Linked DNA regions of Homo sapiens: region 1 is linked to region 2. The links come from fine-mapping of genetic effects on gene expression. A gene starts in region 2. The other region holds a variant in brackets. All regions are shown on one strand. Distances are between the middles of the regions. Region 1 overlaps COL8A1 (collagen type VIII alpha 1 chain). Region 2 holds the start of COL8A1 (collagen type VIII alpha 1 chain).

What was found. PIP is the estimated chance that this variant, and not a neighbour inherited with it, causes the effect. A credible set is the group of variants that fine-mapping cannot tell apart.
Region 1: its variant is the best candidate, but not a certain one, in a credible set for the expression of COL8A1 in skeletal muscle (GTEx, PIP 0.89).

The regions. Positions count from the first base shown.
Region 1 is chr3:99,709,714-99,714,109 of GRCh38, reverse strand. All of the region lies in intron 1 of COL8A1 (collagen type VIII alpha 1 chain), which reads right to left. Among named protein-coding and RNA genes, the nearest start is that of COL8A1, 73 kb to the right of the region's middle. The variant A/T (reference allele first, on the strand shown) is at 2,594.
Region 2 is chr3:99,636,647-99,641,042 of GRCh38, reverse strand. It overlaps COL8A1 (collagen type VIII alpha 1 chain), which reads right to left and starts at 2,449. Exons shown (of 4, transcript NM_020351.4): 1 at 2,379-2,449. It overlaps LOC124909401 (a long non-coding RNA gene), which reads left to right and starts at 2,363. Exons shown (of 2, transcript XR_007095981.1): 1 at 2,363-2,456; 2 at 3,109-3,675.

The DNA of each region.
Region 1 (4,396 bases), 73 kb before region 2:
GGGCTCTCATTTAAAACATGGAAGTCTGAATTTGTCATCCAAGTGCATCTATGGTTAAACTCCCGGGTTGGTTGTGTTTTTCATTTGCCTTGATTTTTAAGTGTTAACCTGGAGATACAACCATAATGTCTTTTTCTCCTCCCCTCTCATCAGAGCCACAGGCTCCTGGCATTCTGTTTTTATATAGGAAACCAGATTAAGTAAAACAGCTTCTTCTATAAGATAAATCCTCCAGTGGCCAGCCTGGGGCAAGTTGGCTCCTCTTGTGCAACTACATACTCAATAGAACACTGTTAAAATTTGTTTTAATTGTATTTTTTTTTTCACAAATCCATTCCCAGAACTTATAATACTCTTAAACGGTAAGCCAAGCAATTACAGTGGCAACTTTATTGAAACAATACCACTGCTCCTTGAGAGAAGGATTAAACAGGGCTCATGACAGCCGTCTGGCAAGGTGCTTAGCTCACCAGAGGTTGCCCAATGCCCAGGATCAACGGTTGAAAGAATGCTTTAGAGGGAAGGCACTGAACGTCTTACTGATGCAGGTTTCAAGTAACCTTGCTGTAAGAGTTTGTAGCTTTATTCCATAGAAGCTCGTGGATTCTGTTTTAGGAGGTGCTAAACCAATTGCCATTTAACAAGTGTGAGCTTTACTGGTTTCTCTTTTTCTTAATCTGTTGCTTGAGGGAGCATCTGGCATCTAGCAAGTTCTTGGGGTAGCAAAAATAAGACTATGTCCTGTTCTAATTCCATCTTAAAATTTAAAGAGACTGCACGTGGGGCATGAGAAGACTAAGTGGTGGAAGATTGAAGGGGTTGTTCTTGGTTAAGTTCAATGTACTTCATGACATTAACTCTGGCTTTATCTTTACTACTTGTGTGAACTTGGGCAAGTTACTTGAATTTCTCTGTTCCTCAGCCTCCTTATCTGTAAACTGGGGACAATAAGAAGAAGTAACTCTCAGGACTGTAATCAGGATTAACTGAGATAATGTTTGTAAAGCACACAGCAGAGGCCTGACACAAATCAAGGACTACATGAATATTAGCTACTATTATCAGAATTTTTGTTACTCTTTTCCACCTTGCTCACATTGCACAAACTGTTCTCAACTTTGTGAAAACCTTCCTTTCTCTACTTTTGAGTCTATAAAAGACTTGAGACGACTTTCTGGCTCAAATGTAGAGAAAAAGAGAAATGTAGAGAAAGAAAGGCATCTCAAGTCTGTTATAGACTTCAGTTGCCTTTATGGCTCAATTTTCCCAGTTTGCCTGAAACTGAGGGGTTTCCAGGGATGCAAGACGTTCAGCAATAAAACAAGGAGAGACCTGGGCAAGCCAGGGTGATAAGTCACTCCACTTTTGGAAAGCTTCCATGTCTGTCTAATTCTCAGTTCTGGGATTTCTTCCTTAGACTAAGTAATCCTTCAAAAAACAGCCACTTCTGAGGCTTTTTCAAATTCACCTTGTTTCTGGAAAATCTTTAGCTGTTTCCTTTTATGCCATCATCTCTGCAGATATGGGGCAGAAAAGGAAATGTTGTGTTTCATATGCCAAGAGAAAGTCATATTTGTTAGGCATCCTCAGCTGCCTTTGGTTTTCAATTCAGGGCCTATAAATCATGAGCCCGGATGTCCGACAGGCTGGGAGGTGGACTATGGAAAAGAATCACAATAAACTGAAATGACTTTTTGCCATTGGCTTGGCCAACATGCCTTGCCAAGCGGTTTTCCCCTCAATTTTAAACAAATCAGTTTTATAAAGGGAAATGTACTCCATATGTTGCTGATGCCTTTATCCTCAATTCACAAAAATGCCATCTTCTTAGAGAGGTAGAGTTTCCAGGAATTGTTTGGAATCTTTTTCCTCAAAGAAAGTACCACTTGAACCGTCACAAATAACTAAGTTTCTTTTCATGGTTGTTGGTGAGGATAATAACACCTGATTTTGGTTTCTGCCACAAATGGCCCCAAATGCATTCTCTTCTAACCTTTTAAAACCTTTCAATTTCAAAGTATGACTTTATTGCTTTCCAAGAACTACAGGTTTTCTGTTTTGCTCACTTCCAAGTTTACCTGAATTTAATAGAGGTCAACAAAACCCTGAAAGGCTCAAGTATTTTTATTAGTGGAAAGAAAGTCACAAACCAAGAGTATTACTTCTATTTACTGATAGCATCAAAATGCTTTTTTTCCCCCACCAGCCTTGGTTTGATAGACATAAATCATCATTAGGAAGATAGAGAGGTAGAAAATATTATCCCTATGTTGCTGACTATTTTTATAAAATCATTCTGTTAAAAAGAATACAACTACTTAGTTTGACCTTATAATTCTCTGTATCCCATATACTCTCTCTCTACTCTCAAAGTAAAATTCACCTTTTTCCTATGATTGCATCAATTTGCTGCTAAGCCGTGATGTGATTCTGTTTGTCAATGGTCTGAGGACCAGATAGGCCTGAAATCCTTTGCCATTTATCAGTCGAGGCCCCACTCCCACATCCCCCAGGTATTAGGTCACTTCCATTTGTTTGTCTGGTGAGAACTGGCTTCGTTTTCCAAGGCTGGAGGCCAGATTGGTTCAACACC[A/T]GAATAGGAACCTGGAACTGACATTGGTTTTGCAGATGTGCAAAAGAATCCCAGGAGTTTTGAAAAAGAAAGGCGAGAATGGGTTTTGAGAAGAGAAAAGAAAGGGTTTTCAGAAGGCTGAAAACAAAACAATTAATCATATGGTGACTATTACATTTGTTTCTATTAGTGACTTACTTTCCCTGTGTTTTCAGACTCTAGTTCAATTCCCTTTTTATGTAACTACTGAATAACGATCACCTTTTGGGGGGCTTTCTCTTGTTTGTTGTTTCTTCAAGTCTGAGGCTTTCAAATTGTCTTCTTACTTCTAAACCAGAAAAGGAAGTGATTTCATATGTGAGGTAATGAGGTGAAAAGCAGGACTGACCACTGTGAAGATTTGCAATTGAAAAAAATAATTTAGAAAATAGTCTTGGAATTGTCACAATAAATTGCCTATAGTGATAGTTTTTTCAAGACCCTCTCCTCCACCATTTATAGTTTGAGAACATATTTGCCTTTTGGTACCCATTAAGAGTTCCAAAATGGTGGATTTCATCACCTTTGGGTAAGGCCCTGGAGTGGAGCCAGAACTTCCATCAAGAAAATAAAGTATATATTTTTTCTACCTCACATTTACCTACTTCTTCAAGATATTATGATTTTAAGCAGAAGTTTCCAGATTCTTAATAGTGCAGGGAGCATTGACCTGGGACTCATATAATCTGATTTTGGATGTTAACTTTACCACTTAGCCATTTGTGTGAATGTGGGCTAGTGATTTAATGTCTCTAACCCTGTCTCATCTATAAAATAGGAATAATGATAATAATATTAATAACACACATGCCTGGTCCACATGTTAGCACACCTGTGCCTGGCACAAACATTATTATTCACAGCCAACAGACTGGCTGCTCCTCCTGACAGTAGCTGACCAAGTGGATTAAACTCATGGAAGGTTTGTGAAAAACCTCTTTCTTTATGCTCGAATTTCCACAGCTTTGGTTCATTAAATGTTATTTGGAATTTTGCTTATGGGCCACTGGCAACTTAGCTTAGTTTAACAATGTCCCTTTTATTTGGACATAACTGACATTCCTTAAAATATACATAACTTTATTATTTTTCTGTATTAAATCCTCCTATTGGTGCTTGGAGGGGACGGAGATAGTGGAGTGGGCTTATTTTCTATGCCCTGTGATTTTTGCTGTGTCACAACCTGTTCCTCCCCATGATGCCATTTCCTTTGTGGGTGGGGCAAAGAGAATATTTGGTGAGTAGCGCAGGCAAAAGTCTGGGAAATATCCCAGTTCCATGGATGACAGTGTTGCTGCTCTGCTCTGGGATTTCCAGGTCATCTTCTTCTAGTTTAACATATAACTCAGAATTTTATTTCAGCGATACAGCCTTTTTAGTGTTAAATGTGTGTGCACATGCACACATACATGCATGCATACTCTTGATGAAATGCAGAGTTAAATGGCATTTGAATGAGTGTATGGTTTAAAAAATTTATACTGGCTATTTAAATAGCAAGTATAATTCTGAGATTCCCCTGTCCCCTCCAACAAAATAAATAGCCTGATAGCTAGGTTCTCCTCACACATGAGAAGAAGGGAGTTGGCTCTTAAAAGGAATTTCCTTATGCGTCACTATCTCTCTTTAGCTGTATCTTGATAGGAAAATTCTTTGCATCTTAAGCTTTGTTCTTAAAAACATTTCAAAAAACATTACACCATAACACTCATCTTCTGGGAAGAAATTAATTTTAATCACTGATAATGCCTCTGTTGCTATTCACAACATTGATGTGATCACACA
Region 2 (4,396 bases):
ACATTTCTGTAGGATCAGCAAGCCCTCAAAATCAGTAGAGCTCCCTTCTTGTGTCTCTAGTGAAAGCGGCAGCTTCTCATCTTATCTTTTCTGAGAAACATTAAGAAGTCCTCCCAAGTCTGCCTCAATGGCATTGGTTGGGTATAGTCATGGACTTGATCAAGAGGCAGCTATATAATGGCAAAAAGAGGAGACTCACGTGAAGTATCCACATCCCATGCAGAAGGGGAGATTTGGGGGCGACTACATGAAACTTCGACACTGATTTTTCTAAAAGCTTAAGAAGAGCAGTGTCATCTTGCTTGGTATGTACCCTATGGAGAAAGGATAGCTTTGCTCCTGGGAAACTTAGATCATGAGCAATCTAAGATGATCTCACTCAGTTATTTAGGGGCTTGAACTTGATGGGACATAGGGAAGGCAGTTACTGTTTAACGGTCCATAGCTGGTCCGGTGGATTAATTGCCAGAGAAAGCAGAAGTAAACCCTTGGAGAATACTTTTATCCCCAAACTTAGGAATAACTGGAAGCTCATTTAAACTGGGAGCATTTCCCCCTCCACCCCAAGAAAAGATAACTTCCCTCAAGGGGATCTGGTGAATGAAGCAGCGTATTTTCATCCTTGTGATAATGGGTGTGAGTCAGGCACTACCATAAAAGAAGAATTAACTTGAATGTGCCACATACTTGGTCTGGCCTTGTCCCATACCTGTACTCTTGTCATGGTTGATTACCTATGTGCATCAGATATAAAGCAAGCAGTCTGCATTGTGGCATGAGATAAAAGGTATGTTAATATGCTCAGGTCACATACTATCTTGGCCAATAGTAATTTTATATAATTTGCTTAAAGGAAACTGCACTTCTTGCAATATTTTTTTCCAATGAAGAAAAATTTAACGTGACAGAAGCTTTATATATAACTCTTGCATTTGAGTAACAGCATTGAATCCTCTCCATCTCAAGCAGAACTTTTAAATATTTTTATTACTTTTGATATGCAAAAGCTAAGGAGAAATGGTTTGGAAGACCTAAGTTAAATTTCTAATGAGTCTTGTTTCTTTAATAGGGGAGAATTTCATACAGCTTCGGTGAGTTTTTTCTTTCCACATGAGATAATATAAACAAACAAAAAAATAAAAAAGTGAAACATTTCTCTTCTTACTTTAAGAACCTTAAGGGCTAAAAGAGTGGTTTGGTTTCCTGACTGGTACTTTTGGTTTGCCTTCTCTAAGTGGTCTTGAGCAATTCCCCAGAGGAAACATTTGAAGAGGGTTTTTCTCCCACTTGAGAGAGTTTCATCCCACACAACCCACAGAATTTGATGGCAAACTTCATGGACCAAGTGTCTGGTTTTACAGAAGTGGCTGTGGAGTATGTTTTTCCTTTCACAGGTGCACATTTATTCTACCTTAGGAATAAGAAGAGATCATTTTCTTTTAAAGAGGGTAGCTTAAACACTGAATATCTCTGATAATTGGATGCCAGTCAGGTAGGTTGTGATTTACTAAATGCGGGGGAAAAAAGGTGGAAAGAAGGATTAAAACTTCCAAAGCCTTTCTCGCTGATCTTTCTTTACAACCATCTGGTGTGCACAGAAGTATTGTATAATCTGGCCTGTATTATTCTCTTACTGTGAAACATATTGAAACACTTTATGTTTAGGTGTGTGTACAGAAATTCATGAAGTTCTTTTATACACTTTCTTAGTTCCATCGTAATTCTCATTTTAGGATGTCGTGAAAAGATAGCCTGGTGAGAGAGCACATTCTACCCTGGCTTGTGAATTTGGATTTGTTCCTTCCTATCTACCAGCCACCTGATTACTTACTGTCCCCGTGCAAAGGGCACCCGTTCACATCATTTTTTTCCAAGCGCTAAAACCTGGAAAGATATTTTTTTAAAGGACTCACAGAAGCTGTCTTGGGGGTTTGGAAAACATCACAAAATTGTTAGCAGACCTTTTGACTGTGCTATTTTTAGGAAGTTAACTGTGTTCTTTTAAAGTACATTTTTGACAATGGGACAACGTTTTCCTTGCCCCCACTGATGTGTGAAATATGTACAGTGAAAAACGTCAGTACAACACCCCAAACAGATACATTTTAACCTAAGCAACAGTCAGCAACAGGAGAAAAAGTGATTTAAAAAGAGAAAGGTTTCGCAATATTTATGCTGCTGTTTCTTCCCTGAAGGAGCTTTTATTTTACCATTCAAACAGAAGTTTGTTTTCAAACCAGTTGCTAGTTAAAGGAGCAGCGGATCGCGCATCCGTAAGAATCAGCTCTAACCAAACAGCAAACGCGTTGGCCAGAGGGTGACTTATTCCCCCATAGCAACCCCTGGTAGGTGAGCTGCCTGCAGAAGTGCTGTCTTACCTTGAGCACGTAAGATCAGGGAGAGAGGCTCGCTGGCTCCCACGGAGAGGATCGGGGAAGGGCTGTGATCCGCTGCTGGTAACATGCACTTGGCTTTTATGGGCAGGTGGGAGGAGCTGCTCCTCATAGTAGGTGGGCAGGGAAGGAGCGGCGGGCGGGCAGCCTCTGGAGGAGCTGGACACTCTTCTCTGGGGAGGGGCGGGCAGAGACTGGAGCCCGCAAGGCGGAGGAGAGACGACGGGGCGGGGGGAGGGGGAGCGCGGTCACAACGGAGGAAGGAGTGGAAAAGGGAGAGAGAGGGAGAAGGGAAAAAAGAGAGGGAACTAGAAATAGTGAAAGGGATCTTGACCACAGATGGGGAAAGGTGGGGGAGAAAATGAATAGCAGAGACAGAGAGAGAGAGAGTGTCTGGGAGGAAAGGGGAATCGGAGTATTTTCCGTTTTTGCATGACATTTTTTGGCAGAGGGAGTTGTGGGTGATTGTGACTTTTGAAGGTGTTTTCTGTGAATTTGGGAATTTGAAAAGCTACATAGCGGTCCGGGAGAACTGAAGGGTTTCTAAGCGAGGCAAGGGAGGTGAAGCTGGGCGTCCGGGCAGCAGAGCCAAAGTTCAGGGTGGACCCGGACCTGGAGCTGGAGGCACTGACATGGCCTGGAGCCAGGCAGCCCCCAGCCCTCAGCCCCGTCCCACCGCCCGCGGGTGAAAATCGCCCCATCCCTCTCCCTCCAGGCAAGGCTTATTTGACAAGGAAGTTCCTGCGCTGCCTGTCCTCTGAGCATCCAGAGGCCCCTTTTGAGACTTCGGCAGCATTAAAGTAAATCCAGCAACGGGGAGGATTCGCGTGGACTTGCTTGTGGAGACAGGAACCTCAGAACCAGCCTGGGTCTTCCAGCATCTGCTTATGTAACGTAGGATTTCAGAGCTCTCTGCCCTCTGGTTATTTTCGGTATTTAAAACACTCTCATTCCTAACAATCGGAAAACGTCTTGGTGCCACAGTTCTTTCTCAGTGTGTCTTAAACATTAAGAGAGGATTCAACCAACAAGTGGCTAAAGGATCAGTCTGAAATTACTAAGAAATGCATTCAGAGAAAGAAAAACAAGCTCCTTTCGCTGCTGAGTGGTGACTCACTTCCTAGCCCAAGCCTGATTTTTGCCACCAAAGGAATTAAAGCATTTTAAAAGAGAACCTGAGACTTGGGGTGGGAGATACAGTACCGGGAGGGGGAAAAGGCGGGAATGGGAGGGGGGAGGGATGGGTAGGCTGGAAATAATAAAGGAACGAACTTGTACTGAATATGTATATATGTACTTCATTCAGTGTTCACCGCAACCTTATGAGGTAGGTATGATTCATATTGTGCAGATTTATTTATTTTTTTTTTAATTTAAAGAAAGGCATCTCTAAGGGTTTAAATAACTAGCTCAAGCTAGCGAGAGGGGGAGCCACAGCTAGCGAGCTTGCAAACCTTAGGCACTCTTCAGTACACCAGGCTGCCGTATAGAACACCTAGGTTCGTCTCAGGTTAGATCCTGATGTCATTGGCTGGTAGCAGGCTCCAAGAGAAGGAAACTTGATGGTGAAGAGCAGAATTACTCAAACTTAGCACTACTGAAACTTTCGGGAGAATATTTCTCTGTTGTAGGGACCTCTCCTGTGCACTGTAGAATGTTAAGCAGTGTCCGTGGCCTCTACCCACCAGATGCCAGTAGCAGTACCCACTCCGCACTCGCCACCCAGCTGTGAAAATAAAAAATGTCTCTAGATTTAGCCAAATGTCGCTGAGGGACAAAATCCCCTCCTCTTCTTAAGAACTATTCGTCTAAAAAAGGCCCACAACTATAAAAAAGCATTTTAAAAGAATCTATTAAGAAAATACCCAGTAGTGCCATTTGGATAATAATAATACCTACGTCCATATGTGCCGAGTTTACACAGCACTTAGGTTTTTACATACGTATTTCCATCTGTTAGCTTCAAGAGCTCAAAGCCTCAATTACTTCCTTTGTAACTAAGC